3 separate regions of the Homo sapiens genome follow, and all the other regions are linked to region 2. Evidence: fine-mapped expression QTL. A gene starts in region 2. Each other region holds a variant in brackets. All regions are shown on one strand. Distances are from middle to middle.

The links. PIP is the estimated chance that this variant, and not a neighbour inherited with it, causes the effect. A credible set is the group of variants that fine-mapping cannot tell apart.
Region 1: its variant is the best candidate, but not a certain one, in a credible set for the expression of NEK3 in whole blood (TOPMed, PIP 0.67).
Region 3: its variant is the best candidate, but not a certain one, in a credible set for the expression of NEK3 in whole blood (TOPMed, PIP 0.62).

The regions. Positions count from the first base shown.
Region 1 is chr13:52,692,163-52,703,050 of GRCh38, forward strand. It overlaps SUGT1 (SGT1 assembly cochaperone of MIS12 kinetochore complex), which reads left to right. Exons shown (of 13, transcript NM_006704.5): 13 at 1-8,747. Among named protein-coding and RNA genes, the nearest start is that of CNMD, 42 kb to the right of the region's middle. The variant T/G (reference allele first, on the strand shown) is at 5,832.
Region 2 is chr13:52,154,692-52,165,579 of GRCh38, forward strand. NEK3 (NIMA related kinase 3) reads right to left here and starts at 4,906. Exons shown (of 16, transcript NM_002498.3): 1 at 4,852-4,906; 2 at 1,384-1,557. The coding sequence starts at 1,500. It overlaps LOC124903176 (a long non-coding RNA gene), which reads left to right. Exons shown (of 2, transcript XR_007063806.1): 1 at 1-107; 2 at 171-2,655. RefSeq lists silencers at 4,593-4,702, 4,783-4,842, 6,603-6,897.
Region 3 is chr13:52,099,637-52,110,524 of GRCh38, forward strand. NEK5 (NIMA related kinase 5) reads right to left here. Exons shown (of 24, transcript NM_001365552.1): 6 at 10,858-10,888; 7 at 10,704-10,774; 8 at 8,682-8,768; 9 at 4,862-4,916; 10 at 2,456-2,656; 11 at 2,297-2,378; 12 at 107-240. Among named protein-coding and RNA genes, the nearest start is that of NEK5, 24 kb to the right of the region's middle. RefSeq lists an enhancer at 5,037-5,331. The variant C/T (reference allele first, on the strand shown) is at 6,150.

The DNA of each region.
Region 1 (10,888 bases), 540 kb after region 2:
TAGCATCCCATTATTGCAAATCAGAAAGATGATGGGGCCAAAGTAAAGTTCTTTGCCCAGGTCACTCTACTAGTAAGTAATTGCAATAGCTGGGATTTGAACCCAGGCCTATCAGACTCCATTACCCATACTTCTGACAACTGCAATCCTCTCATCAGGTTAATAAGCTAGATGTGGAATGAATGATTTTTATTACCAAATCAGCTGACTGGAAATGAAGCAGAGAATATTCAAGTTAAAGAACTAATTCTTTTTTTTTTTTTTTTTGAGACAGTCTCACTCTGTCGTTCAGGGAAGGAATGCAGTGGTGCAATCTTGGCTCACTGCAACCTCCACCTCCCAGGTTCAAGTAATTCTTCTGCCTCAGCCTCCTGAGTAGCTGGGATTACAGGCATGGGCCGCCATGCCCAGCTAATTTTTGTATTTTTAGTAGAGACGAGGTTTCACCATGTTGGTCAGGCTGGTCTTGAACTCCTGACCTCATGATCCGCCCACCTTGGCCTCCCAAAATGCTGGGATTATAGGCGTGAGCCACTGTGCCCAGCCAAGAACTAATTCTTATATAGGAGCTGGGAAGATAAATTCCTAGAGATCCTCACTTTCTTAAGTAGGAAAGCTTATTAGGAATCCAAATCTTTTGCCTCATACTGGAAGTAATGCAAAGAAGTAGTCTGATTTTTGAGAGGGTGCTGTTTTTCTCAAATCTAGATCATTACAGAGAAACAGTGTACTTTTAACAACTGTTGCATGTGTAAGAAGACTGGTACATGATGCCAATGAAATTCTTTTTTTCCTTTAACTTGGGAGCTCTCATACCAGTTCCGTTGTACAAATGCTGAGATTGTTTCAAGGTTTTATTCCTACAGACATGTTAGGATTTGTGTATCACTGATTTCTCCAATAAAATTTGAATATTTCAGGTTATTTCCTTTTTCCTAACTTATGTTAGCATTTTGTATATATATATATATTTGAATTTTGGCTTGTCTGGAGTCTTAAATATTTGGTATGCCTTCACATTTGGATTTTTAGTTTTATTTTTACATTGAGACTTCTACCTATATCATTGACTTTATTTTTTCCTATGATTAAAGGATTCAGTTATACAAAAAGATGTTTCAGAAACACTGCTATTTACCTAAAGGTAATTTTCAGTTTCTTTAGAAGGAGTTAGGAAAATGGTCCTTAATACCTATATAGGGTTTTTTAAAAAACTGTACCCTATAATGCAGCCACAGAAGATCTAAATAATAAACAATTGCGCATACTATTAATATATATTTAGAGCTTTTGTTAAGTACATGAAAAGACAGTATTGCATAGTGGTTAAATGCATGGACTCTGAAGCCATCCTGTTTGGGATCATCCTGGCTACATTGCTTACTAGCTGTGTGACAATGGATATAGGTGCTTAATGTCTCTGTGCCTCAGTTTTTGTGTCTATGTAAAGGAGATAATAGGATCCCCCTCATGCCTCATGGTCTTAGTTGAATGAATTCATGTAACTCCACAGGTATCTTAATCCAGAAGGCTCAAAATACTAATGTTTTGTGTGTGTGTGTGTGTGTGCATGTGCATCTGTATGACAAGTGATATAAAACGTGACCTGAATTTATAATATGAATAGTCACATTTTGCAGCAGAAATATTAAATGTTTAATTATAGAATGCTAGCACTGATCCTGCTGAAATTGTTACAAAATACAGCAGTTGCCCCTTAACTGTGGCAGATACATTCCAAGACCCCCAGTACTGAATGCTGTATGTACATTTTTTATACATGTATACTTATGATAAAGTTTATAAATTAGGCACAGTAAGATATTAATAATAGAATATACAATATACCGCAATAAAACTTATGTGAACAGTTATTTTTGGACAGCAGTTGACTGTGGGTCACTGAAATTGTGGAAAGCAAAACCATGGATAAAGGGGAACTATTAATAGTCTATCTGTATTGCATTATCTTCTAAAATCCAAAATTCTGACTTCAAAAACTCATCTGAGGGTTTTGGAATTGTGTATCTATGTGTGTGAAGTGCAAAGAGCAGTGCTTCATGTGACAGATAACATCAGATGATCCTAGGCTGGAAGGTGGAAATCCTAGAGAAGATTTTTTTGTGTTGTAAGTTCAGTCTTTCAAGATGTGGAATTCTGTCTGAGGAAAGTATATCACCTAGTTAACAATTGTTACTGTAATTTATAAAATTTGTACTTTGGAGAGCATAAGAATTCATGAAAAGTTTTTAATAATTTTACTTAAACAGAGCTTAATTATGTAAGTATTGTCAGCACTTTATAAAGAATCGTAAAATAAAATAGTGGCAGAAAATATAAACTAGATGTAGAATGTTAAGGAACTTTCGGAAGTTCTCTGGTTTTCATTTCAATTTCAAAGCTCAAAACAGAAGGTAAAACTATTAGGATTTGTGAAAAATACAAGGTACAAAATCACGCAGTTTATAAACCACAGATTGTCTTGTTATTCCCATCAGTGAAAAGAAGCTGATATTTGTTTGTGTTTGTTTTTGTTTTTGTTTTTGAGACGGAGTCTTGCTCTGTCGCCCAGGCTGGAGTGCAGTGGCGCCATTTTGGCTCACTGCAAGCTCCGCCTCCCGGTTCACGCCATTCTCATGCCTCAGCCTCCCAAGTAGCTGGGACTACAGGCGTCCGCCACCATGCCCGGCTAATTTTTTGTATTTTTAGTAGAGACAAGAGTTTCACCGTGTTAGCCAGGATGGTCTCATCTCCTGATCTTGTGACCCGCCCGCCTCGGCCTCCCAAAGTGCTGGGATTACAGGCGTGAGCCACCATGCCCAGCCTGCTGGTAGATGTTTTTATGAGTTAATTCATCAATCTTATTATTCTTGCCCCAAATGAATCAGTGTGGAGCATATACAAGTGTGTAGACATTAATATGGGCTCACTGTCAGCTGGGAGTTCTCACAACTACCACTTTTTACTGATTATCTGTTTTCTAAACTTTTTCTGTGGCTTGAAGTGACTGAAAGTGAACACATTCATAAGTAATGAGCTTAGGCTGAGGATATATATCCAGTGGGGGATGAAACATGCTTAAGAAATTGAGTGCATTTCCTTTATTATTGTTATTATTTTGCTATTTCAAAACAATTGACTTTAAAAAATTATACTTCACCACAGAGACAGGTGTTGTTTTGTAATGGAAGGAGTAGTAACTTATGAATCTAGACTCTTAAAATCCCAGTTCTGATACTTTCATAATTGTGTGTTTTGAGGGCAAGTGACTTATCTGAACTTTTTTCTTTTTTATAACACTGGATGATAATTAACCCTCAGGATTGTGAGGATTTAATAACTAAGTCCTGACTCAAATTATGTTACCAATAAATGCTACTTAAATGTAAAGTCCTTGATTTATTTTTTCCCCTCAGTCCTGTTTAGTGTTGAAATTCTTCAAAGGAGGGTGAGTCTGGCATTTACCTGCTATTCAAGAGTTTTCAGAATTCAACCCCAGCCAAAATTTTTGGCCACATCTCTTGTCACTGCTTTGCTGTGTACTAAAGCTCCCAGACACACAAGAATCTTCTAGTCATGGTCAAACTTTTTCTGCAAAGGGCACTTACAGTCTATTGCATATTCTTTGTTTTTAGTGTTCAGACATCTGCTGTTTCTGAATATGTCGTGTATTTTCATTCCTTTTTCTGCCCCTCCTGGGCATCTCCAGTTTCCTACTGATGTGTCAAAACTGAGTTTGTATGCTACCTCCAGGAAAGCAGTCTAATCTTTTGCAACTCTGTTACTGACTTTTGTGGCATTGGATTGGGTTATTTGCTTATGGTTGAGACATCACTGGATCCTTTGATGGAGTCATACCAAAACCACAACATGTCATGAGCATGCTTGAGAGTGCTAATCTATTCCTTGTTTGTCAGACCAGTACATTACAGTTGGTTCATTTCTTCCCCCGTGTGACTGAGTTTCTTGAGGGCGCGGTCTAGCTTCCATCTTTGTATGTGTAGCACCTGGTACATAGAGAACAGGCTCCCAGAATTGGATGGATTTGCTCATGGTCTTATCACTGCACAGAATGCCCTTATTTTCTTCCATTCATTCTATGAGATCTCAATTAAAATGTCAGTACTCTTGTGGAACTCCCCTCTCCATGCCCTCTACTGAAATGCATTGCCACTCTAGTTGTGATGTGGGAGTGCCTTGTTTATGCCTCTATTTATGACACCTTCATGGTGTCACATGTTATAGGGTTAGTTGCGGCTGTGTCTGTTTTACCTTGTGTGTCTTGGTCAGTTAGTGTTATTTACTTAAGCTTTGGATCTTTGATACATAGCGTAGTGCCTTTCACATAGTATGTACTCAAATATTGGAAGTTACTCATCCCAAACCATAGTGTTTAAAATTGGGGTTTTTTAAAAATGTCAAGCCCTTAAAGTTGATCATTTATTTGTCAATGTAAATAGAATAGTAATTTGTTTTCAAAAAGATGAGGTCTTGCTGTGGTGCTCAGGCTGGAGTGCAGTGGCTGTTCACAGGCGTGATAATTGTGTGTTACAGCCTCAAAGTCCAGGGCTCGAGTGATCTTCTCACTTCAGCCTCCTGAGTAGCTGAGACTAGGCGTGCACCACCGTTTCTGACAGGATTTTAATTTTTAAGTAGGTTTTTAACCCACAGCCACGAGAGCTAATTTTAACTACATTGTTAGAGGTAGTAACAGTTATATAACTAATCAAAACCAGTGTGATATCCAAGTACTTTTTTTTTTTTTTTTTTTTGCTATTTAATTTTGAGATACCATTTTTTGGAGGGGTGTCCTGATTTATTTTATTTATTTTATTTATTTATTTTTATTTTTTATTTTTTTAGATAAGGTCTTGCTCTTGCCCAGGCTGGAATGTAATGGCATGGTCGCAGCTCACTGCAGCCTCCGTCTTCTGGGCTCAAGCAATCCTCCTTCCTCAGCCTCCTGAGTAGCTGGGACTACAGGTGTGTGCCACCACTCCCAGCTAATTTTTAAATTTTGTGTAGAGATGGGGTCTCCCTGCATTGCCCAGGTTGGTCTCTCAAACTCCTGGGTTCAAGCAGTCCTCCCACCTTGGCCTCCCAAAGTGTTGGGATTATAGGCGTAAGCCACTGTGCCCGGCTGTTTTTTGTTTTGTTTTGTTTTGTGTTTTAATTGAACGGACTGAAGTTTACTTTCTAACTAGGTTAGCCCTCCATTCATACAAAATTATGAGCCCAAATGTCTTGGGGAGAGTACAGGAGAGGCCAGATCTTAAAAGCCAGGAGTGGAATTAGGTTTGAGCATATGTAGCAATATGGAAACAAAGAGTGAGTCAATTTATAAGCATACCAATCTTCTTGGAGACAAAAGTTTGAATTGCTCACGTGTCCATTTTTTTTCTGGAATCCCTGAAGAAATTTTGAGATACTGAGTACTAGAAAACCCTCTTTGATGAGGGTTGTATACTTTATTTTTAAACAGTATCAACACCGTTGAGGCCCTTCAAGTCTTTGCAGTCAAAAGCCATACACTTTTTCTTTGAGTGAGCCTTTACTTTAAGGTATGTAGTAGAATAATATAGGTATCTGAAAAAGAACTTGGTTCATGACATCCACTCATTCATTTATGCACTTAGCAAATATTCATTGATTGCCAAATACGCATCAGACACTGAGCTAGGTGCTAGGTACTAGGTAAACAAAATTCCCTGCCTTCATGGAGCTTAGCTTGTGGTGGTGGAAAGAAGCCCTCAGCCTGAATACTCAACTTATGTCTGCCGTTTATTCCTTAACACATTAAACTATAGGTAATAGCATATGTTAGTCTAATC[T/G]TTGTTTAGCAAAGCTATTTCTTGTTCTGGAATATAAGTACAGTTACAGCAGAATAAGTACCAAGGCAAGATTGGAGAATGACCGGTTGTGAACAGGGACTTAGGAATATGTGTAGCATAGGATTTTATTTTAGAGTTGTTAAAATCAGATCAACAGAGCATGTTTTTATGGGCCATCTGACAAGACTAGAGGTAGCTTTGGAACCTCTTATTCCCTGGAATGCAAACATGTATTTGCATTTCATCCACTGTCAGTATGAGGAGACAAAAACGAAGTCAGGATTTTGGAGCTGGAATGGATCTTAAATACTATGTAGTCCAAACGTTTGGTTTTACAGATGCACTTTTTCCAGAGTGCTGTCATCTCATATACTTTTTTCTTCATACAGGTTTTTAATGTAACTCACTCAGATCGTTGGTGATAGACTCTCTCTTAAAACTTATTTATCCTAATCTTTTTTTTTTTTTTTTTTTTAAGAGACAGGGTTTTGCTCTGCTGTCCAGGCACACAATAGCTCACTGTAACCTCCAACTCCTGGAGTCAAGTGATCCTCCTGCCTCAGCCTCTCAGGTAGCTGGGACTGCACTACTAGTGCACTAAGCTAATTTTTAAATTTTTTTTGTAGAGACAGGGTCTTGCTGTGTTGCCCGGGCTGCTCTCTTAACTCCTGGCCTCAAGTAATCCTCTTGCCTTGGCTTCCCAAAGTGCTGGGATTACAGGCGTGAGCCACCATGCTTAGCTGATTTGCCCTAATCCTCTGCTGACATTCTGATATCGGACAACTAAAATTATAACATTGGGCAGCTATTTTGTATGATATATAGGGTAGTGGTTCTTAAGCTTATTGGTGAGTAACCTTCACTTGGGAAGCTTATTTTTAAAAATGTAGACCTTCATTACTTTCCTCCTGAGATTTTGAATCAGTACCTTTGAGAGAGGGTCCAGTAAATCTTTGTTTTGAATGAACTGATGGTTTTGAAGCAGGTGACCTGGAGGACTGCATGTAGAACACAGTGATGTCAAGGAGTAAAGGAGAGAACAGAAGTGAGATTAGCACTAATCACCTCTAATGCCTTATTTCCAGTAAAGTTTAGAGAAGAGGAAAAGCTACTTGGCTTGCTCCTTTGAAGGTTTTGTTTCCCTCTTAACACAGAAATTAAAAGGTAGAGGAGAGATGCTGAATGATGCTTTTTTTCTTCTTAATCTTGGGGGGTCATTATGATTAAGTTATTGAATCCATATCACCGTATGACAGCACATGATGAAAGAAAATCAAATGTTTGTTTCAATCAAAGTGAAACAAAATGAGAATAACTATTTGGGCAAAACACTTTTATCACTGCTAAGATATTACTAGAACTGAGCAGAGAAATACTCAGAGAGAGCCATGGCATAGTACTAATTAATAATGGGGTACCATTTAGCAACTGGAATATTCTCCGATGATGCCTGTTTAATTACCCATAGGTGCTAAGTGAATGTTAAAAATTACGGTGCTGGTTGAGTAGGCCGAGTAGAATTTGTGTTAGGGCACATCCCATGGAGATCTTTTTTACTGCTTAATTTTTTGGAGTTACCTCAGTAACTTAACAGGCAGGAATATGGTTTTAATGGAAAGGAAACCATTTGCCTTTAACAGCATTAGTCCCGCTAAGAGAAAGTTTTTGCTTGTCTAGTTTATTACAGGTCTTTGACTTTGTCAGTATATGGCAAATTTAGTATAAAAGATGATTAATTATCAAGGCTGATGAAATATAGGCAGCTGAAAAGAAAATTCTTAGCAATTCATACCTTAGAAGGAACCCTGAAGGACAGGACGCCATAGAAATCCTGTTTTTTTAAAAAAGTAATTTCAAGTAAGTTTGCAAATGCAATGCTAGTAAAAAGTATATAGAGGTATGTCTTTCACACTATCTTGTTACTATTAGAATTTTTGTAGCCATGTGCAGAGGAGAGAAAAGGTGTTGGATTTTCTGCAGTTCTGATTCAGTTCTAAGAATTTGGTGTGAAAAGAATGTTTGCAAAGGAGCAGGCACAAAGGTGAGAACAGGAATACGAAACACAACATCTGTAAATGACTAAATTCAGAGGGAATTTAGTGGGGCATATCTCTTAAATGGTTTTGAATAATTTGGTGTTTTAACCAATGACTTAATTTAACTTAGTGGGTATACTGTTCCCAGTCCCATTACTGATTTTTATTCCTCTGTGATAACATACACCCAAATAAAGACTGCTATGTATTTGACTTTAAAACTATAAAGATGTAAAAAAGGTTCACTAAGCCAAACACCTTAGAAAATAGCCTCAGCTATTTGCTATGTTTATATTATACCTGCATAAAAGTATTTATGTATAGATGTACTTACCTTACACAGTAAGTACCTAAAATTTGTAAATTGAATACTTTTGAATGTAAGCAGTTGAAGTAAAACCTGTAGTGAGTTCTTCAGTCAGTCAACACTAAACCTGTTTTGTAAATTTGATGCTAGTATTATACTGGACTTTCTCAAAATGAAGTACACCTATATATGCATATAGTATATGAGCATGTGTATTTGTACAAAAGCCCTTCAAAAGGAGTTCAGCTTTTATAAACACCAAAACACTCTCTGCCTGTAAAATGTTTTTGCTGAAATTTGTATCATTAACTCTCAAATTTACATCTTCATGTTTGAGATACGCTTTTAGGACTGTCTATGCATGTAGACTTTGGTCAACTCTCTCCTCCTCCCTCAATAAATCAGTTAACTTAAAAAATATATTGTGACCATTTTTATAAAATACATGTTCATAAAACAGATCAACATATTTAGCTTATACAGAAATAAAATTAAGTCAATCCACTCACAAAGAATTTCTATTTTGTAAAAATGTAGCTTGTATTTCAGTATAATAAAATCTGATGTAAGAAACTGTTGAGTGGGTTAAGTGGTTATTCTTAGTATTATATCTACTTTTTTAGTGTCACAGTTATTTGAGGTGCTGGTGGAAGGGGAGGTGTAAAAACACACAAGTTTTTGCAGCCAGAAAATGAAAACATTTTCCATGTGCTGACTAAATGGCAGCTGTCACATATTTCCTTCCATTCCGAGTCAAACTAGGACCTTGAAATCTAACTTGAGATGTTCCATCAGGATTGGTTTGTACCACTACTGAGAATTAAATGAGTATCTAATGAAGTACCAATAATACACATAAGTCTATACACACATACTAACATTTCAGTCAAGATTCAGCACAGCAAACTGGGCTGTATTTGCAACTTTTAGACTGGCCTGGTTAAAAGTAATTTGAGAAATTAGTAGTACCAAGTTGTGAAGAAATTTGTAATTCTTCCCTGTTGCCCTCTCTTCCTTTATTGAATGCTCATCTGTCCACTTCTCTTTCAAAGTAGACCCTTATTTTCATCCTTGAATACAATTTAAGTCTCCTTTGTCATTCCTATCCTTAATCCAACCTTGAATTTTTCCTCTGTTATTAAATCATCCTGATTTTTTCTGTTAAATTGATGTCCTTGGGTATTTAGTGACGTTTCATAACACAACATAATCCCTTGGCCTGTTAGAAGTAAATTACGCACCTCCTATATTTTCATCTAATTATGAAGCTTTGAAAGGGAGCATCTTTTCAAAAGTCAGCCTTCCCTTATGACCTGCTGTCCTTATTAAGATGCCTCTTTGGCCTGTATGGCACCTGCTCAGTTTTCACATGGGAAGCTACCAAGGGGGATTCATCTAAGGTGAAAACTTAACCAGCTCCCTCCTTGCCTGCAACTTTTCATTTCCTATTTCCTACACACACACAGACACACACACACACACACACACACTCCCCAGATTAACATGCCACTTAAAGCTTCTGCCTACATTTTCATCTTGATATTTCCTACCCCGACCTGAATGCTGTTTTCCTGCTTGTACCATGCAGCTTCACTTCACACCTCTGGTCTTACTCAAACTCCCTCTGCCTGGAATGCAAATCTTCTGTCACCTTCACTTGGCTAATTCCTGCTCATCCTTGAAAATCTAGAGAGTAGACATTCTCCAAGAAGCCCATTGCTTCCATCTTTATCAAGGCTTTGTCTGGTGTGCCTTGATTATCTGTATCTCTCATAAGACCATATGCTCTTCTGGGCTGGGATCACTAAATCATTCTCTTTATTTTTAGAACCCAGTACAGGTTGCTGAGCCATGGGGGTGGGAGATGATATGCAGAACCATTGACGCATATTTCTTTCGTTAATAGAGTAACAGCAGTTTTAAAGACTAAACGTGGAATTCATAACTGCAGGAAGTAGCTGCTTCCTGAGAACAGTGTGACCATTACATGTCATTACGGTGCCTTTCCTTCGTCTCTTTTCTCCAGAGACCTAGGCTTGCTGTGTATTTCATTAAATGGAGGGATCTGAGTGTTCACCTGAAAACCAGGTTTTTAAAATTCTGTATCATTTTTATAGACTTTAATTGGAAAACACCAGTATTAGGGATTTACTGTGGAATACACAATAATAAGGTATATTCTGAATATGAGAGTGTAGTGAGATCATGGCATCAAGACCTTTCTGTCGTCTCAGAATCTGTGTTTTGGAAAACTTCTATTTTCCTTAGGAAAGTTGTTTATCTATCAAACGGTGGGATGCAAAACTGAAATGTCAAAAATATAAAATACCTGCTCATCCTCTTGATCTAATATTTCAATTTCTAAAGACAGTCCTTGTTCCTGAGAGACTTTATGTCATTATACATAAATAAGCTATTCCTCCTCAGCTGTATCTGCCAAGCAACACTGTCAGCCCTGTAACTAGGAGAGTAACTTATTGGTAATTGGACTACAGCCGCAGCCTGATTTGTACTACAAAGGTAAAAATCATTATGCTTCTTCATGCCCAGTGACCACTTACTGAAAACAGATTGAGAAAGGTGTGAAGACCTGCTTTTCAGAATGTCAATAAAGTCCTTCCTCCCCACAAGTCTGATTTATCTTCGACTGCATTTTTCTTTATCCTAGTGCTGTTTCCCTGGAGGTGACTCTTAACACAGGTCACATGCCAGTG
Region 2 (10,888 bases):
CAAAACCATTTATCCCTAACTTACTCTATGAGGATGAAATTCTGAATGATTCATCTTACAATCAAGAAATTGCCATTGTTAGTTGGGTGTGGTGGCTACCCTCCCCAGTGGCTGGGACTATAGATGTAGACTATAGATGTAGTATAGTCCCAGCCACTGGGGAGGGTGAGGTGGGAAGATCGCTTGAGCCCAGGAGTTTGAGCTGCAGTGAGCTACGATTGTGCCACTACACTCCAGCCTGGGCAATAGAGCAAGACCCCATCTATAAATTTTAAAAAAGAAAGAAAAGAAATTGCCATTGATTGTATAGTAACACAAGGGTTCTCAGACCAGCAACATCAGCACCAACTGGGAACTTGTTAAAAATGCAAATTCACAAGCCCACCTGGACCTACTCAATCGGAAGCCTGGGGGTGGAGCACAGCAGTCCATGTTTTAACAAGCCCTCCAGATGATTATGATGCTCACTCAAGTTTGAAAATCACTGAACGAAGTCAAGAATACAGTGGGAAAAAAATACCTAGCACTCTGAGAACTTTATTAGAATGTATTTTTAAAAAATTGATCCAAAATATTATGACATAGTCTTCATGTAATGAATTCTTTCATAGGACAACTATGATACATAGTAATGGTCTACAAGGAAATAAAACCTATAAACTGATCCACAGAGTAGGTTTACTGGTACCAAAGGTTAGCATTCATTCTTCACTGTATTTTTATGATCCTTTTTCATTAATATTGCACCTGAGTTGCTCTGGCAAAGATTTCCTGCACCATTAGGTATACAAAAGTGGTAGTTATTACCAATTATTTGCTGAAATAAAATTAGCAGTAATCACCACCAAAACTTTTACTGTTTTTCTCCCATTGTTAATTACAATATCCTAAGAACCACATATAATGTATCGAGCCCTTGTAAAGCTAACGAATAAACCAATTACATCTTTTGCATGAAGGAGAAATTCCATGTTAAAACTCAAAAACTTATTATTTATTTTTTGAGACAGAGTCTTATTTTGTCACCAAGGCTGGAGTGCAGTGGCACAATCTCAGCTTACTGCAACCTCTGCCTCCCAGGTTAGGGTGATTCTCCTGCCTCTGCCTCCTGAATAGCTGGGACTACAGGTGCAGGCCACCACACTTGCCTAATTTTTTTTTTATTATTTTTACTAGAGACGGGTTTTCCCCATGTTGGCCAGGCTGGCCTCAAACTCCTGACCTCAGGCCGGTCTCAAACTCCTGACCTCAGGTGATCTACCCGCCTCCACCTCCCAAAGTGCTGGGATTACAGGTGTGAGCCACTGTGCCTGGCCAAAAACTTATTCTTTTATATAAACTGCATGTATACTTTCAAAGTGAGCTAATTTCTTTAGTAGTGACCTTGGGAAGCCTTATTTCTTTCATGGCAAACATCTGATTACTGCTTTCATGCTGAACCAAAAGAGCTCTGCCGAAGGAGCCCTCCCCAATCATTCTCAGGACCATGTAGTCATCCATGCTGGGGCATCCACACAGCTGGGCTCCACTCACGCAGTCACCATGGGCTCTCCCAAACTGCATTCAAAAGCAGAAACATTTGAGAATTAAATGTACTTTCAAAAAGCAAAAATTAATTCAAAGTAGCTCTCATAACCATGATAAGAGAAAAGCAAATTATTCCTTTTGAAGAGGATCAGTGTATGCTACCCCAAAATATGCCACTTTCATGTAAGAATTGTTTTGAGCTGAAACCAATTTGCTCTTTGCCCTCCCTTTTTTGTATAAATGCAGGGCATAAATTTTCCTATGTACAGGTAATAAATATCCATTTGTAAATGTGTCTTCCTTTCCAGTACCAGGAAGAGGAGAGCAACTCTTACCAATGGGGAAGGCACCAACTTGAGTCCACATAACAAACTTTACTGAATAACCCTTATCTTATGTTAGCTTCCGCCATATATTTACCTTCCTACAATTTACCCAAGAAGCATTCCCCTACTTTTGTCTAGTTACTTCTCTATAATTTATCACTCTTTGTTAAAATGGCATATGAGCCCCCTGGTCTAACCACTTCTTTACATTTATGCATAAACCTTTTTTCCTGTTAATCTATCTTTCATCAGTTTATTTTGCAGGGCCCAGCTACTGAACCTAAGAGGGCAGAGAAAAAATGTTTTTCCTCCCCTATACTACATACAACAGGCAGACACTGAGCACCAACTCTGAGTCAGATGTTATAATCTGAAAAATCTCTCATAGTCCCTGCCAACGTGGACATCCCATGCAGAGATAACCATAAACCTCAACAAATGTAGGCTATTTAAGCTGAAGCCTGAAGGATGAATGAAACTTGGCTAGACAAAGAGGAGGAAAAGAGTAATCAAGGAAGAGGAAATTGCATATTTAAGAGCTAAAGAAATTACATTCAGTTCAAGAAATTGAAAGAAGAATGTAACAAGCTGCTGAAGCATTTTAACCAAGAAGGCAATATAATCATATTTGCATATTAGAAAAAACATTCACTCAGATTGCAGATTAAATGGACCAGTGGAGGAGGGGCAGGAAGGCCAGCTCAGAGACACAGGCCAGTTAGGAGGCTCCAACAATAGAAAAGGCAGGAAAATAATGAAATGGAATAGAGTGGAGGCAATGGGGTCAGAAAAAATGGGAAGGAAAGATGTAAGAACAGTTGACAGGATTTGTGGTGGCAGATTTATGGGGGGCAAGCAGAGAAGGGGGCAAGGTTGACTCCCAAGTTTCTGGCATGAACCAGATGGTTTCTTGGCACTCCCTGAGAGAGGAAAGGCACAATGGTTGTGTGTGTGGTTTTTTGTTTGTGTGATTTTTCTGGAAGTGGGAGTGTTGCAGGGGTTGGGCAAAACATATTGATAGAAGACAGACATGTGTTTCATTTTGGACATGCCAAACTGGAGGTTCCTGGGAGTCAAGAGAGATGTTAAACACACAGTTGGAGTCCTTGACTTCAGTCTCCCATCTATATTTCCAGGATGAAGCAGCTAGCGGGACTGCTTAGCACATAAGAGAAAATGGATAAAACGTTCCTAACACTTTGCCTGGTACATACAAGGTCCTGAATAACTGGCAGCTATTATGATTATTAAAACCTTAGGGAAGTGATGCATTCTTTTTCATTGCAGGAAAAACACTGTAATGAATTTACTTGATTTTTCAAAAAGCTTACAGTGTTTGTTTTTTATTTTGAGACGGAGTCTCGCTCCTGTTGCCCAGGCTGGAGTGCAATGGTGCGATCTCGGCTCACCGCAACCTCCACCTCCCAGGTTCAAGTGATTCTCCTGCCTCAGCCTCCCGAGTAGCTGGGATTACAGGCATGCGCCACCACGCCCGGCTAATTTTGTATTTTTAGTAGAGACGCGGTTTCTCCATGTTGGTCAGGCTGGGCTCGAACTCCCGACCTCAGATGATCCGCCCGCCTCGGCCTCCCAAAGTGCTGGGATTACAGGCGTGAGCCACCCCGTCCGGCCCTAGTGTTCGTTTTTTAATTACACCACAAAGAATTATAAGGCAGAGAGAGCATGACAGGCAAAGCAAAAATCAAACTAAAACCTCTACTATAGTGACCTGTAAAAATTCCAGTTTGTATTACTGTTTATCACAGAATTACCAGGAAATCCTAGAAATAATTTCTTCATATAACCAAATCAGTCATACACATTGTCTTCGAAACAATGTTTTTCCAAGATCGATGAGGTCTTTTGAGTGTATATAGATGTGAAAGAAACAAGTCCTTTACTACTATTCTAACACCTGGTATTACACGGTTTAACATGGAAGCCAAGTTTCCCCATGATCTTATTCTTCGTTTCTTCGGGGCTTTATTCTATGCAATGGAGAGTAACTGAAAATTAAGAGCAACCAGACTTCTTAGCTGAAAACCACATTTGATATTTTCTGCCCACATTTGCCTGTTACTCAATATTACACCCATATGATCATTACAAGACCTGAATACACTCTGGACATGGCAAAAGTATATCGGCCCCTTCGCATGCCTGCAACAATACTTTTAAAAACCTAATAAAGTGATTTGCAAATACCCAGAAGTGGGATCACCAGTGAGATACGGGCTAAGTTCAGAAAGGTCCCTGAAACCACCTTTACAGATGTATAAGTAATGCGAGAAATCTAACATGACTGACTCCATCTTGCTTCTAACCTCACGGGCTAAGTTTTCACCGTGTTGTCGTTTTCTTATTCTAGCACAGAGGCTAGGATAACTGGGAGAGGGATTTCGTGTAAACTTCAAGACAAGGGAAACTGACCCCACCCCTTCCTGGGAACCAACGAAGCCGCCCCGAGTTTCAGAAGCTCTTGTGATTTCATCCCCAGCCGGTCAACTGTTTCAGTTCCCCAGCCCCCCGAAGCCAAAATGCCCTTTAAAACCCTCGCCCCCGAATTCTCGGGGAGACAGGTCTGAGACCCTGTTCTGGTTTGGCCAGCCCTGCGCTTATTAACTTCTTTTTTTGCTGCAACAGCGGTTCTCACTGGTTCTTTCCGGGCAGCGAGCGAGAAGAATCCGTTGAGCCGGGGCCGGCGCCCGCGGGGCAACTGCACCGCGGGGGAGCCCAGTCGCCCCGCTCACCCGTGAGGGCCCTTTCTCCTGGAAAAGCCGCTCCGCCCTGCTGACCCCCACGGCACCGCGCGCCCAGACCCCAAGGCGGCGAGGGACTTGCGGGTTTGCGGCGAGTGGTCCAGACCGCGGGGCGGAAGTGAGGGGCGCGGCCGCGCGTCCGGGGCGCGTCTACCCCTCGCTCCCACTCGGCTCCGCGCCGCGACCACGCGCCGCCCTCCTCGTTCTAGAGGCAGCCCGCCAGGGCGGGGACCACTCACCCGCTTCCCCGGCGACCCTAGTCCACTCCTTGGCCTGGCAACCGGCGGCTTCCGCGGGGCGGGCCCGGCGGGTCGTCTCTCGGGTTGCGGGTGAAGGAAGCCGCCTGGGTCTGGCGGGAGGCACTGTTCTTGGAGTAGCCGGGCCTACGAAGAGCACGTTTTAAAGCTGTTGTTCCACGTTGCGGTGGAACAGTGCTGTTAACATTGAGGGAAATTGTCCCCGACTAACTGAGTTCTGTCTGCAGGTTAAGTGAAAGCCTATGTAGATAAATTTCACGGGCACAGCACTCAGTGCTAGCTAGAACTTACTAGCTATGTGACCTTGGGCAATTGTGGAAGGCGGGATAATGCTTCCGCCTCAGGATGTCCACATCCTACTCCCTGGAACCTGTGCGTTTGTTCTCTTGCTTGGCAGAGGGGGTTAAGATTGCAGATGGAATTAAGGTTGCTTATCAGCGGACTTTAAAATAAGGTGACGATCTTGGAGTGTGTGCTTGGGTAATTACAAAGTAATTACAAGGGTTCTCTAAAGTGGAAGGGGCCCAAAAAGAAGGTCAGTATGAGAAAGCTATTTGAAGGTGGAGGAAGGGGCAACAGCCAAGGAATGCAGCTGGCCTCAAGAAGCTGGAAGAGGAGCAGGCACAGTGTCTCATGTTTGCAATCCCAGTGCTTTGGAAGGCAGAGGCAGGAGAGGAACACTTTAGCCCAGGAGTTCGAGATCAGCCTGGGCAACATAGTGAGACACTCGTCTCTACGAAAAATTAACTAGACATAGCGACGGGCACTGTGGTCCCAGCTGCTCGGGGGATTGGGGCAGGAGGATCACTAGAGCTGGAGAGGGCTCATGATCCCACCACTGCAGTCCAGCTTTGGTGACAGAGCAAGAACCTGTCTCCAAAAAAAAAAAAAAATATATATATATATATATATATATATATAAAGGAGGAGGTGGGAGGTGGAAAAGGAGGAGAAGCTAGAAAAGGAGGGAAAAACAAAAAACAAAAACCAAATTGTTCCCCAGAGCTTCCAGAAGTAACAGTCCAGCTGACCCCTTGATTTTTTTGTTTTTTGAAACAGGGTCTTGCTATGTTGCCAAGACTGGTTTTGAGCTCCCGGGCTCAAGCGATCCGCCCACCTCAGCCTCCTGAGTGGCTGGGACTACAGGAAAACCACCATGCACACTGACGCCTTGATTTTAACCCAGTGAGCTGTATTTCTGAACTTCAGAACTGTAAGGTAATAAATTCGTGTCGTTTTAGCCACTTAGGTTGTCACAGTTTGTTACAGAAGCCTTAGGAAACTAATACAGCAGAGTAACTAAATCCCTCTGTATAAAAGTATAGAACCTACCTCATAGGATTACTGTGAACAACATCTGGTTACCCTTTACTTGTAAGCGCTGAACGTGTTCATTATAACGTGTCAACCAGAGTCAGAGAGACCGAAATCCAAGTAAAGAAGTTTATTGGCAGTCTGAGAATTGCAGTTCAAGGAACACAGATTCCAGAAGCATTTGAATTGTGTCCTGACCAGCTATTTTTGGGTAGGGTTTTTAAAGGAAGTAAGAAGTCAGTTCTCACTAGTTCATCCATAACCTTCGTAACCCACTATTTTGATTGAAGATAAAGCGTTATCATGACAGTTCATTGGTTTCTAGGCAAAAGTCCTTGATTCAGGGGTTTGAGAAAAGTTCAGTCCTCAGCATGAAGTCCTTTTCATAATGGCAGCAATTTTGTCTGCAACATCAGCAAGTACATTCTGCAGTCAGGCAGTTGTAAAATGGCATTCAGGAACAAAATGGCTTTGCTCTGGCCAGCTCCAATTGCCTTCCTTCCACAATGTCAAAGTTAATGTACAACTATTCTGTAGTGTGGTGATAAGAGAAGGGAAATGCTACAAATCAACATTTACAACATCTGCACTGCTTTCTTTGTACTCTATACAAAGACTAGTTTCAATTAAAAACAAAGAAGGCCAGGCACGATGGCTCAGGCCTGTAATCCCAGCACTTTGGGAGGCCGAGGTAGGCAGATCACCTGAGGTCAGGAGTTCGTGACCAGCCTGGCCTACATGGTGAAACCCTGTCTCTACTAAAAATACAAAAATTAGCTGGGCATGGTGGGTGGCGCCTGTAACCCCAACTACTCGGGAGGCTGAGGCATAAGAATCATTTGAACCTGGGAGGCGGAGGTTGCAGTGAACCAAGATCGTGCCACTGCACTCCAGCCTGGGTGATAGAGCGAAACTCTGTCTAAAAAAAAAAAAAAAAAAATACTGCCCATGCCTGTACTCAGAATGCTGCTCTTGAGAACTGAGCAAAAGACAGATTTCTATCAGATTAAATTTGTGACAGCATCAGGGGAGAAGATGACAAAGGTGCTTAATGCTTTTCTTTCCCACCCAATGATGGCAGTCATGAAAGGGATTCTTTCCCTTGTTCCATCGGTGTATTAGTTTGCCAGGGCTGCTGTAACAGAGTCCCACAAGCTAAATGAATGGTTTAATCAAATTTATTATCTCATACTTCTGGAGGCTAGAGGTCCAAAATAAAGGTGTTGACAGTGTTGGTTTCTTCTGAGGGCTGGAACGAAAAGATCTGTTCCAGGCTTCTGTACTTGACTTGTAGATGGCCTTCTTCTCCCCCACATTGCCTTTCCTTTATGTGTACTGTCTCTGAGTCTAAATTTCCCCTTGTATAAGGACACCAGTCATATCAGATTGAGGGACCATCCTACCCCAGTGTGGCCTCATCTTAACTAATTATATCCTTAACAACCCTATTTCCAAATAAGATCACATTCTGAGGTACTGCACATTAGGACTCCAGCGTATATTTTGTGGGGGATGCAATTCAACCTGTAAGTCAGTAAGAATAGACTGGTGAGGGTAGGGAGAGGGGATGGTGAGAGAAGGTCTGGCCCCCTTTTTATGCAGCTGTTGCCAAGCTGTGGATACCCAGCCAGGAGAGCTTCTGGATATATCCAGAAATAATAAAACGCCACTTCTCCTGAGATGACTGGGAGTTTTCACTCTGTATTAACTGCTTTGTAGTCTACAGTTATATAGACTTTCTTATACTTTTTAACTTCGGTTTGGTTTAAGAGCCACAAGATGACTCACCGAATATATTTCCAGGCATTAAAATAGATGATCTCTGACCCTCACCAGGATTGTTATGTTTGGTTTTTGTTTTGTCAAAGGGGAAAAAAAAAGTTGAGTAGAGGAAGACCTAGAACAAAAAGCAATTGTTCCTTGCTTTTTATCTCCCCAGCTTCAGTCCCACTTCCAAAGGGCAACCACTTTGACCTTTGTGGTTTTAAATTCTCCTGATGATCTTCAACTGTATGAATAGGATTAAGCTGCTATTTTGTGACACTATTGACTCTTGCAAGGACTGATAAAAAGTCAGCTTAATTCACCCCCCTAAGGTGCACATGGTAGTTAACACTATGATTTAGTCCTATTGTTCACTTTAGTAACTTTAATATCCTTAAACTGTTGTTTTTAGTTCTATTAAATACAGACAGCGCCTCTTGGTTCTCCATTTCATGATAGGAAGAACTCTTACTTCCCTTGAACTCCCCACCTCTGCTTCTACCTCCAAATTTCTTATTTTTTAGAAATGAGGCCTCCCTCTGTTGCCCAGGCTGGAGTACCTCTGGTGCAATCATAGCTCATTGCAGCCTCAAACCTCTGTACCTCCAAACTTTTCAAAGCTGTACTCTCTTAGATTTCCACAACTGATAACATTTATATTCCCTTCTGTAACTAAGTCTTCTTTTTTTTTTTTTTGAGATGGAGTCTCGCTCTGTCGCCAGGCTGGAGTGCAGTGGCGCCATCTCAGCTCACTGCAACCTCTGCCTTCGGGGTGCAAGTGATTCTCCTGCCTCAGCCTCCCACGTAGCTGGGACTGCAGGCGTGCACCACCACGCCCAGATAATTTTTGTATTTTTAATAGAGACGGAGTTTCAACATGTTGGCCAGGATGGTCTTGACCTCTGCCTGCCTCAGCCTCCCAAAGTGCTGTGATTAGAGGCATAAGCCACCACGCCCGGCCTAAGTCTTCTATAAGTTGGTTCTAATAGACAATAACCAATAAGCAGCATTAACATTATGAAAATGTTGGTCCACAGCAGAGCTAAGCAGTTTGCTGGGCCTGATTTTCCTGTGTAATCACAATGTCTCAACCCTGTGCTGTTCAGTTTCTCAAAATCATGGTTACTTTGTTGTTGTTGCTTTGCCTAGTACTTTTTTGTTGTTGAAAGAAATCTGTGCCATCTTACCCATTCTATTTTCTTGGAATATTTTTTTGAAAGCCCACTGATGACTCAGTTTAACTCATATTTGTATTGTGATTTTCTTGTAGAGTCTTTTAGGAAATATAATTTCTAGGTACTTTTCTTATTTTCCTTTTCTTTGCCTGAAGTATATCTTCAAGTTCTTCCAACTGTATATTCCATGAAATACCTTTGTTTCCTGGATCCCCCGTTCTTGCTCAGATATGAACTGGTGGCTTAGTCACCCACAAAACTGACATTCTGAGTCACATCTGCAGCTGCCTGAATCCCATGGCTTCCTCAGGATACTCTGCTCTTTTACTGATGGAGTACCTGCTCTAATAACTCCTCCTTAAGAAAAGGTGTCTGGCAGGTAAGCTTTCTGAGTCTTTGCATGTGTAACAATGTCTTTATATTGCCCTCGCAAGTAATTTGACTGGGTAGAGGCGTCTCAAGTTGAAAATCATTTTCCCCCTGAACTTTCAAGCTATTATTCCACCATTTTTAGTGCAGCTGATGATCAATCTAATGCCAGCATGCCTTTTGTTTCTTGTAGAAGTTTGTGTTCCCGTTTCTGGAAAGCTTTTGAATAGCTGGTCATTTATTGAACAAATTTTATTGAGCTGCTACTCTATGGCAGCCACAAGGGCTAGGACCTAGGAACACAATGGTGAAGACTAGATTATTTCTAATGAAGTTTCCCACATATCCACCAAAGACAATGCTTGAGGCATCTTCCTTTTTCTCAGAGGCAGAAACCAAATTAGCTTAACTTTGAAATACAGAGATTTTATTTTTTTAATTTATTTTTTGAGACAGTCTTGCTCTGTCACCCAGGCTGGAGTGCAGTAGCACAGTCTTGGCTCACTGCAACTTCCGCCTCCCAGGTTCAAGCAATTCTCCTGCCTCAACCTCCCAAATAGCTGGGATTACAGGCGCCAGCCACCAAGCCTGGCTGGTTTTTGTATTTTTAGTAGAGGCCGGGTTTCACCATATTGGCCAGGCTGGTCTCAAACTCCTGACCTCTGGTGATCCGCCTGCGTCGGCCTCCCAAAGTGCCAGGATTACAGGCGTGAGCCACCGCGCCCAGCCCAGAGATTTTATTCTTAGAGCTCCAGAAAAGTGGGCTAGGTAGATAGTGAACATGTTAGATGCTGGCGTTAGCTCACTGCAATATTAATTTAGATGTGTGATTATAAGGAAGAAGAACACAATTTAACAGAAAATCTTTCTGTTCATAGTGTTTTCCTCTACTTTCCACCTTTCCCATATCTGTTTTGGTCTGACACTATAGGGTACATCACTGTGAAATCAAAAACAAGCAAGCATGTACCCTTTGTCCTCAAAGGCTGGCATGCAGGCCTATGAACTTGGAAAGACAACAAAGCTTCTAGTATGATAAACAAAGAAAATGGAGAATAAAAAGTCTGATTTCCTCTTCCTGGCATCAGCAAATACCAGCTGTCAGAGAGCTCTGAGTAATCTACCCCTCCTATTCCTAAAAGGTAATTAATATTAAAACATTGCCAAAAGGAGGTATATTTAGATTTTCAATTAAAATGACACAAATGAAGTGGCAATGCAACAAATATGAGAGAAAAATTTTAAATTGTAGTATTTATATTTGTGATGTTTTTCCCATCTAATTCCACTCTCTCCAGTGGTCCCTGAAACATCACCAGCAGGCTGACATCCTGATAAACTCTAAAAGGAAGGAAAACATAATCTAAAAGGCAGGGTGGGTGTGGCAGTTAGAGGTC
Region 3 (10,888 bases), 55 kb before region 2:
TCCAGCCTGGCGACAGAGCGAGACTCCGTCTCAAAACAAACAAACAAACAAACAAAAAGCATATACCATAGCTAAAAAACACAAAGGAGGGTTTAGAATGACTTACAGATCTGGCCTTCTGGGCTCCAGCTGGTGGTCTCCATTCATTTCTATGCAATATAGCATTCCTTTTAATTGGCACAGATATCCTTGATCTTGGTGGGCACTTTCCCTGGAATCTCACTTTTTGTATTTTACACTCTTAATTAACCAAAATAAAACAGCTTCAATTTTTTAAAAATTGTACACCATTAATACTGATACTTGTAAGAGTATAAACATAAGCTACATTTCATAACACAGTAAGTTTACTTTTTAGCCAGAGATATTTTACACACAGTGAGAGTACTGATGAAAAATTAATATGCAATTTCTTTAAATGAAAAAAACCATTTTTTCAGAGTCCCTTTGCATATTTCTAGTAATATATAACATCACTTTTTTTCAGAAAAATAGAAATTAATATTAACATTTACAGAAACAATATGTATGGGGTAATAATAAAAGTTATTAAATTTGGTCATTAGAGCTTGGGTTATCAGGCCACTCCATTCATGCCACATTGTTTGGAATTTATGAGTAGATCTTCTCTCTTTTTTTTTTGTTGAGACAGTCTCACTCTGTCACCCGGGCTACGGTGCAGTGGCAGGGTCTGAGCTCACTGCAACCTTCACCTCCCGAGTTCATGCGATTCTTGTGCCTCAGCCACCCAAGGAGCTGGGATTACAGGCATGGGCCACCAGGTCCAGCTAATTTTTGTATTTTTAGTAAAGACATGGTTTGGCCATGTTGGCCAGACTGGCATCAAACTCCTGGCCTCCGGTGACCTGCCCTCCTTGGCCTCCCAAAGTGCCAGGACTGAGGTATGAGTAGATCTTCTAATGCTTGTCTTTATCTCCATCAAAATTTGTTCTTGGGCTGAGTAAGGTGGCTCGCACCTGTAATCCCAGCAATTTGGGAGGCCAAGGTAGGAGGATTGTTTGAGCTCAGGAGTTCGAGACCAGCCTGGGCAACACAGTGAGACCCCATCTCAATAAAAAAAAAATTGTTCTTGTTCTCCTATCTTACCTAGATTAGAAATATGGACAATACACAGTCCCATACTCTGTACTTGTCTATTTTCTAAACATTCTCAATCTAGACTGGTATACAACAATGTTAGTCAAATTAAATGGCAAAGAGGCTCATTCACTTTCTCTTTAACTTTCCTTGATTTTAGAATCTCTGTCTCAATGGATAACATTTCCCTGTCATGGATTCCTTTGAGAGGCTTTCTGCTCCTCCTGATATTGTAAGTCCAGGCATTCAGTTACAGCTAAATTCTGGGGCTTTGACTTTCACAGCATCAAATGAATTAGTAATTTTCTCTTTCTTAACGTACCCCTCCCTCTGACACACAGCTTAGCTGATTCTTGACACCAGGACTAAAATAGTTTTCTCCGGCCTGGCGCGGTGGCTCACGCCTGTAATCCCAGCACTTTGGGAGGCAGAGGCGGGCGGATCACGAGGTCCGGAGATCGAGACCATCCTAGCTAACACAGTGAAACCTCGTCTCTACTAAAAAAATACAAAAAATTAGCCGGGAGTGGTGATGGGCGGCTGTAGTCCCAGCTACTCGGGAGGCTGAGGCAGGAGAATGGCATGAACCCGGGAGGTGGAGTTTGCAGTGAGCAGAGATCGCGCCATTGCACTCCAGCCTGGGCGACAGAGCGAGACTCCGTCTCGGAAAAAAAAAAAAGTTTTCTGTATTTATTACTACCATAAAATATCTCCTGCCTTCTTTGGGAACCACAAAGTAACAGTTCTTACTGTTATCAATTAGGCCCCAAGATCCTAACTTCAGCTCCAATGGTCCTTTGCAACAGAATTCTTAATTGCCAGTCTATCCTCTTTTAGAAAAATAAGTTTCATCTCATCATCCATGTCTATCTGCAACCTTCTCCCACTCTGTCCCTTCACTACACAAAAGTTAAGTTTGGGCTCAACCTCTTCAAGCATCTCTATTAGCATGTCCTCTGCTTCATGGAGGTTTCCTGACTAACGAGAAGGAACCCTGCAGGTCATGCATGAGCTAGATATACAACTTTCAGGCACACTCACTAGTTGCCATTTGACAAGATGATTTTTCTCCTGCTTATACTGCTTGTATTTTTTAAAATGTCCACTTTCAATATGTTTGGTGAAATTTCCTTGCATTACTCTCTGTGTGAGACATGTGTAATAAATACTTTTGATTGCATGCCAAAGTCACACTTACTCTGGACCACCTTCCCAGCATGTCGAGAAGCTGGCGCTCCTGCTCTGCATATAAGCATGTGACTGAATTCTTCCTGAATGACCTAAAACCGAACACACGTGTCAAGGACCTGCAACCCAAAATCTCTGCCAAAATCCAAACAGTCACCTCAAAACTTACCTCAGGAGTCAAATATTTGGGAATAAGATTCTCTAAAAAGGGCCTTTTCAAAATGGAATTTATGGATGGTCGGTCTCGAGGAGATACTTGAAAGAGCTGAGATATCAAGGAATGGAGCTCACGAGAAAACCCCGGAGATATTGGGGCAAAATGTGCTTGACAAATCTTCAGAACCAGCTGCTGTAAGTTGTTACCCTCAAACTGAAAGGACAAGGAGAAATGACACTAAATCAGAGAAAAGTTACTAAAGTAACAAATAATAAAAGTGTTAAAGTAACAAATATACCAAGAAGCAAAACAATGTTTTTAAATTGTAGTTAGAAGCACTAGGGTCACCTGTAATCCCAGCAATTTGGGAGGCCAAGGCAGGAGGATCACTTGAGCCCAGGAGTTCAAGACCAGCCTGGGAAACATAGTTAGACCTCATCTCTCCAAATCATGGTTTTTAAACATTTGCTGGGCTTGGTGGCATGAGCCTGTGGTCCCAGCTACTTGGGAGGCTGAGGCAAGAGGATTGTCTAAGCCCAGGCGGTCAAAGCTGCAGTAAGCCGTGATTGCGTCACTGCACTCCAGCCTGGGTGACAGAGTGAGACCCTGTCTCAATCAAAAAATAAAAAAGAAGCACTGTGGTCCACCTTAAATTGTTTTCATCAACTAATCTTTCATGAGCAGATACTGCAGTTATTCAACAAGATGCCATGTTATTTAAAACAAGTTTTTATTTTGTTTTAATTCTGTCTTATTATCAAAATAATGTTTACTCATAATAAAAAAACTGGAAGGTATAGGAAGTTATAAAGACAGGGGAAAATATGTATAATTTTACCACTCAGAGGTATAGCTCCTTCTGATCTCTTTTAAAAATGATGTTTATTTTACAAAGTTGAGGTCATATTGATATGAAATTTTATCTCTTGCTTTTTAAAATTAACATAAACATCGTTTAATTTCCTCTAAAATGCTTCATAGACCAGAAATCTTCTATTGTATGAAACCAATAGTTATTTATACATAATAATATTCAACTCCATGGTGTAGCAATAAAGGTACACATTGGCCGGGCATGGTGGCTCACGCCTGTAATCCCAGCACTCTGGGAGGCCAAGGTGGGCAGATCACCCAAGGTCAGGAGTTCAAGACCAACCTGGCCAACATGGCAAAACCCTGACTCTACTAAAAATACAAAAAAATTAGCCGGGTGTGGTGGTGGGTGCCTGTAATCCCAGCTCCTCGGGAGGCTGAGGCAAGAGAATTGCTTGTACCCAGGAGTCAGAGGTTGCAGTGAGCTGAGATCGTGCCACCGCACTCCAGTCTGGGCAACAGAGCGGGACTCCATCTCAAAAAAACAATGGAGTACACATTTTGGTCAGACACTGGCTGTGCAACCCTTGACAATAATTAATAACAATGATGACAGCTGTGGAGAAAAGAGTTGATGTAGCAAGCTCTCCTCAGAAAGGCCTGCTTACAATGTTGGCCCGTGGCTGGTGTCTGGGAACTAAGATTTCAGAAGAATTCCCACCATTCCCTGAATGTCAAGAGTGGCTATCTTTGCCTCAGCTATTTATGTGAACAAAATGGTTTATGCTGAACACGGGCTTTCTTTCCAGGAGTCTGGAAGTTTGGCATATGCCAGGTAGAGGGTGCCTATGTGACCAGTCCCCAGTAAAAATCCTGGGCACTGGGTATATCCGATGAGCTTTCTTATAGATCACATTTCACAGGTGACGTGGGTAACAATGCTGGAGGATTTGGCACATCCCATGTGACCTCTGGGAAAAGACTCTTAAAAGCTTGTGCCTGGTTTCCTATGAACTTTGCCCATGTACATTTTTCTTTTGCTGAACGTATCTATTCATACAGTAATTAATTAATTAATTATTTTTTTTAGATGGAGTCTCGCTGTCACCCAGGCTGGAGTGCAGTGGCGCAATCTCAGCTGACTGCAGCCTCTGCCTCCTGGGTTCTAGCAATTCTCGTGCCTCAGCCTCCCAACTAGCTGGGACTGCAGGCACATGCCACCATGCCTGGCTAATTTTTGTATTTTTAGTAGAGACGGGGTGTCACCATCATGTTGGCCAGGTTGGTCTCCAACTCCTGACCTCAAGTGATCCACCCGCCTCAGCCTCCCAAAGTGCTGGGATTACAGGCATGAGCCACCACGCCAAGCCCACACAATTTATTTTTAATGGAAATATGCTACACATACTATTCTCCAACTTGGACTTTTTACTTTATAATATTGCTTGGACAGCTTTCCATGTCATCTATCATTATTTTAAGTAGCTTATCCATATAATTTTTAACAATCTAATAAAACCAAACATTAACCTTTTTCTCCCAGAAGTTAATTTCTTTTCTACAATTCCAATAATTCAAGATTAGTCTGACAATGAGCATACTTACAGGATGTTTAAGTGTGCAGAGCTCATATAAGACACAGCCAAGAGACCAAATATCCCTAAAGAAGATAAGAGTTTACATGCCAAGAAAATATCCATAATTCTTAATAAAAGCTTTTATCCTTACAGTGCCTTAAATTTGTGTCGCTTTACAATTTTATGTAAGTTGATCAGCTTTTACAAATGCTTTCAGATATATCATCAATTCTTATTAGAAGATAAGAGGTAAAATGAAAACCATTTGTAGTTTGTCAGATTTCTAGTCAAAGAAAGGCACACAAACTTTGCTACAACCTGGTGGCTTAATATTTAGTTCAGCTTCCTGCTCAAAAACAATGTATGTATGATGAAATGTTGAGCAATTTGGAGGAGGCAGGCAGAACTCAAACATGGATTTGTTTTGACTCAAAAGGTAATATTTGGTTGATTTTGAAAGATATATCCTACTCAAGGCTTTTGACAGAACCAAAGTTATATTATGTGATAAACATAGTATCTGATTCTCAATAAACATTTAAAAATATACTTAAAATATATATCATGAGCTTTGCTCCTTACAGATTTAGTACTTCATAAATATTTATATGTGATTGGTTTGAGGAGTTATTTTATAGAACAAAAAGCACAATTAAATCTAAAAGATCAAAAAATGTCTAATCAGAAGTCAAGGAGTCAAAGCAAGAAGGAATCATTAAAGTGAGGAGTGAGGTAAATGGCTCCTCTAGCAGCAATGCTTTGTGCATGAGTGTGTGTGTGTGTGTGTGTGTGTGTGTGTGTGTGTCAGAGAGAAGGAGAGAGAGATAGACTCATACTAAAAGTTTGAGTACAAAAGATGGTAGTAAGTACAATAGACGGTAAGATTGGTGGGAAACAAATTTGTGGGATTTTTTTTAATAATTTTTTTTTTCATTAACAAGGTTTCACCATGTTGCTCAGGCTGGTCTCAAACTCTTGAGCTCAAGCAATACTCCCTTCTTGGCCTCCCAAAGTGCTGGGATTACAGGTGTGAGCCGCCTGCACCTGACCCAGGAAACAAACATGAACTTTCTAGACCTTCTAGAAACTCACTGACCATTTCACACCACACAGACTTTTGTCTTTACTAGGGCTTCCACAGACCCAAACTTCTCTTCTGTTCCCAGAGGACCCTCTGCAGCCAGGGCAGAGAATTCATATGCCCCCAGGGCTCAGGCAGTACTGCAGCCACCTGGGGGTTGGGTGGGGCCAGTTGCAGGCCTGAGACCACTCTGCATATTGAGGACTGTGGTGAACCAGTCCTCTAATGGAGCCAG[C/T]GGCTACCCACCTGATTATTGCTAAGATCTTCCAATTTTCAGAGGTACAAACTATGCATATTTTAAAGTCTTTCAATATTTAATTTTTTTTTGGATGTAGTGACAGGGTCTCACAATGTTGTCCAGGTTGGTCTTGAACCCCTGGACTCAAGCAATCATCCCCCTCAGCCTCCCAAAGTGCTGGGATTATAGGCATGAGCCACCATATCCAGCAGCATTTAAATGTTGATTCAAATTCTTGAAAAGCAGTACAAGCAAACAAAACAATGCAGCTGACCCAAGGCTGTCTGTGGCATGCCCTGCTCTGAACAGCCTACTTTCCGTCCAACACACCCTACCTGAATTCCTGCACAACTAACTTGAGGCCAAACTCCTTGGTGCCAGGGGATGTCTCAAAAAAAAAAAAAATCCCTGTTATTTTATTATGCAGAGAAATTCTTACTATTCTTTTTGTAAATCTCTATTGTCTGAGCTTTGCCTTCCATTTATCTCCTTCAAAGTCCAATAGCCAAGTATCTCTTGGGCATTTTTTCCTAAACAAAAGGACAATTAACTTCCAAAGGGAACTCAATCTTCCTTATCGCCAACTTGTTCAATGGCAGCCAGCTTTGAAAAATGAAATTTTTTTCCTTCTCCTTATAGGAAGCAAAAGCTCCTCTTCACCTTTTCTTGCAGTATACATTAGCATTACTGCTGAGGGCCAGGTGCGGTGGCTCACACCTGCAATCCCAGCACTTTGAGAGGCTGAGGCGGGCAGATCACCTGAGGTCAAGAATTCAAGACCAGCCCGACCAACATGGTGAAACCCCATCTCTACTAAAAATACAAAATATTAGCTGGGCATGGTGGGGCGTGCTTGCAGTCCCAGGTACTTGGGAGACTGAGGCACGAGAATTGCTTGAACCTGGGAGGCAGAGATTGCAGTGAGCCGAGATCACACCACTGCACTCCAGCCTGGATGACAGAGCCAGACTCCATCTCAAAAAAAAAAAAAATTATTGCTGAGAACCAGACTCTGATATCACATACATAAAAACTAACTGGGTTTTAAAGCTGGAAGACACCTTGAAGATTACCTAGTCAATACTCTCATTATTATGAGTTAGGGAACTGAAGCCCACAGAGGTCAACTGACTTGGTCAAGTTAGCAACTGAGCCAAGACTAGGATTCCTAGCTCCTAATCCAGTGAGCGGTCACCAGACCACATTGTCTTCTACTTCATCCTCTTCAATCTTTCTTGCAATAGACTAAACAGTGCTTCAAAGATATGAACATATAATACAAAAATGGACATCACAGTGACTGCAATTTTCGATGTTATTTTTTATACCACTTGTATCTTTAAATGAAGAGAAATGGCTTTCTTCTAAACAAGTTTGAAACCTTCAGGTAACACTGCTCAGAGATAGTCACTGGGATCCCCATTTTGTGGCAGGCCAGGTCTTACCAATGCAGGCCTCCATCACAACTGTTTCTATACTGAGTGGTGAAGTTAAATATTAAAAGCTAAAAAAGCCAGTGCCCAGCCAGGCACAGTGGCTCACACCTGTAATCTCAACACTTTGGGAGGCTGAGGCAGGCAGATCGTGAGGTCAGGAGTTTGAGACCAGCCTGGACAACATGGTGAAACTCCATCTCTACTAAAAACACAAAACTTTAGCTGGGCATGGTGGCAGCCACCTGTAATCCCAGATACTCAGGAGGCTGAGGCAGGAGAATCGCTTGAACCTGGGAGGTGGAGGTTGCAGTGAGCCGAGATCGTGCCATTGCACTCTAGCCTGGGTGACAAGAGCAAGACTCTATCTCAAAAAATAAAAAAAAAAAAGCCAGTGCCCTTATACAAAGGCTGTAATGTAACAAAAGCCCACCAAGAGTTTTGCCTAGGCCTTTCCTGGGCCTTAAACCATGACAAAATAATGAAGGAATTCTTAACAAGGAGCCTTTTAAGATTAAACAAGTTTTATTGGTGGTCTGAAGAAACTCCCCAGGCCTCCACAAACAAGTTTATTGGAGGTCTGCAGGAACTCCCTAAACCTCCATGATTTAGCAGGAGACAAAATAAGGGTAATCACCCCAGGACCTAGACCCATTTAGATTAAGTAAGCTTACTGAGGCTCCAGAAGAAAGTCTTCAGGACTCAGACCTTAGTTATAGATTAAAAGGAGTTAATCAGTATGTCTTTAAATGAATGCACACTTACACATAGACATATAGCTTAGAAGGTGTATAAGCTCTGAAAAACTTTGTAATTTTGAGTCGGTCTGGTGATAATTTCCAGGCCTTCTCCCTGTACTGGTTACAGAAATAAAAACTCTCTTCCTCCCCAGTTCATCTGCATCTCGTATTGGACCGCGAGAAATAGCAACCCAACCCTCAGTTTGGTCCAGAACAATTTCACACATGAAGCAAATGAAATTACAAAAGTACCATAAGAAAGAAAGAAGAGATTTGAATTTTAGTTTCTGGAATCTTCATTCAGTGTCATCCATCAGATTTTACTGACACTTTCAAACTAAGAGTCAGCAACTTACGTTTTATTGTTGTAGGGTTTATTCTGACAGATCTCTGGGGACAGGTAGTAAGGTGTTCCAATACAAGTTCGAGCAAGTTCCATGGAACTAGTAAATTATATTAAATAATAAATCAGCATGATTTTTTATTGGAGTAAGAAAAGTCTTAAGACATGGACATGCAAGAAAAAATGTGAAAATGGATAACACAAGATTTGATGCATACATGTGTTAGAAGAAAGCAAAACACTGTATGTTGATAAAGTAACTAAATCAGCTGATTTTTAAACTTACAATTCACCTCCCAAAAATTTACACATTAAAATATATTTTTTATGGCTTAAAGACTCCACAAAGAGATGAAATTGTCATGTTATAAAAATCTCTCAGATGTAGAGATTATCAAATTGCAACCTCATGATTTAAAACTTGGAAAATACAAAAATGAATAAGGGAGAAAAAAGTTACCCAGAATCTTAGCACCTAAAACAACTATTGTTAAAATTCTGATATATTTCCTTCCTGTCTTCTTTCCACACATATTTTTCATATAACCGTGATCACAATGTATTTAAAATTCAGAATTCCATTTTCTTTGCTTAGTATAACAAAGTTATCAAGAAGTCTTCAAAACCATAAATGTTTATGATATATTCAGGTACATGGCCATGGCCATGCCAAGCTTTATTAAATTTAACCATTTCCCAATTATTTAGGCATTTACGTTATTCCAAATTTCAAATTATTCCCTTGGAAGAAGTCCCAGAAACAGGATATTTAAAAATCTCTTGGTACATATTGCCACCAAATTGTCTTCCAAACAGGTGCACAAATTTATTTTGCTAGAAAGTGTGTAAACCAAAAATAAAATTCTAAGCCCCCCAACCAACTCATAAACCCTCCCTTTGGCCAAGGACATTCCAAAGTTAACCTGAAAAACTAGTTCAGGCCATGATGGGAAGCAGGGTCTGATATGCCTCATTAACTCCTCCTCCCCTTTGGAATTCAGGCACAGTTGACCAGCATTAACATTAAAACAGACCTTAAGACTGACAAAGCAGACTCCTTGTAGCAATAAGATACCAAAGTCCAGCCTGACTCTAGTATAACATCACATGACAGATAGCAGGCCTGAAAGGAATCAAAATATTTTACCCCAAATCATGTTTCTTTGTCCATATCTTGAAATAGTCCTGCAAAGGTATCTCTTGTGGGGAAAATCTACATTCTGAAGAAAATTCCCTTCTTTTTCCAAGGCTTTTTCCTGATCCAGGAAAAAGTTAACTAAGAGTCTGGCACCTTTTTAAATCCGATAAGAGGAAATATTTACAATCTATTCTCTCTGAGGCCTGCTACTTGGAGATTTCATCTGCATAATAAAAACCTTCATTTCCACAACCCCTTATCTTAACCCAGACACTCCCTTCCACTAATTCCAGGTCTTCAGATAGACTCTTTCAATCAATTGCCAATCAGAAAAGTTTTTAATCTACCTATGACCTGGAAGCTCCCTCCCATTCTTCCCAGCTTTGAGTTGTCCTGCTTTTCTGGACCAAACCCATGTACATCTAATTGATGTCTTGCATCTCCCTAAAATGTACAAAACCAGGTTGTAGACCGGCCACCTTGGGTACATGTTCTTAGGATCTCCTGAGGGCTATGTCACAGGCATGGACCTTTGGTCACTCGTATTTGGCTCAGAATAAATCTCTTCAAATATTTTATAGAGTTTGACTTTTTTCATTAAGAAGTGTAAACCTGCCTATTTCACGAAATTCTCTCTAGCTTTATGCATATTACAGTCACATCCATATTTGAGAAACTGGAATCACACTACAGAATATTAGCAACATCATTCTATTACACCACAATTTATCTTGAGAATTTTAATCTCAAAGTACCATCTGATGTAATGCATTTACATAAAGCTACCTAAAATTATTTAGACAACCAAGATTTTAATATCTTCTTAATCCATGATATCTAAAAATACATATTTGGGCTATTTTGACTAGAAAGAAAAATTATTTTCAAAGTACTTACTTATTCAGGACTCTTGCTATACCAAAGTCCCCAAGCTTTGCCACCATTCCGTTCTTGCTAAGAAAAATGTTCTATAAATGGAGAAAATGTCATGTTGTTTGAGGTACTTCAAGAAAAGATCAGTTCTGTCTTAGTCTTCTCTCTGAGCTGTTACCTGAGCTTTTATGTCCCTGTGTAATATCTTC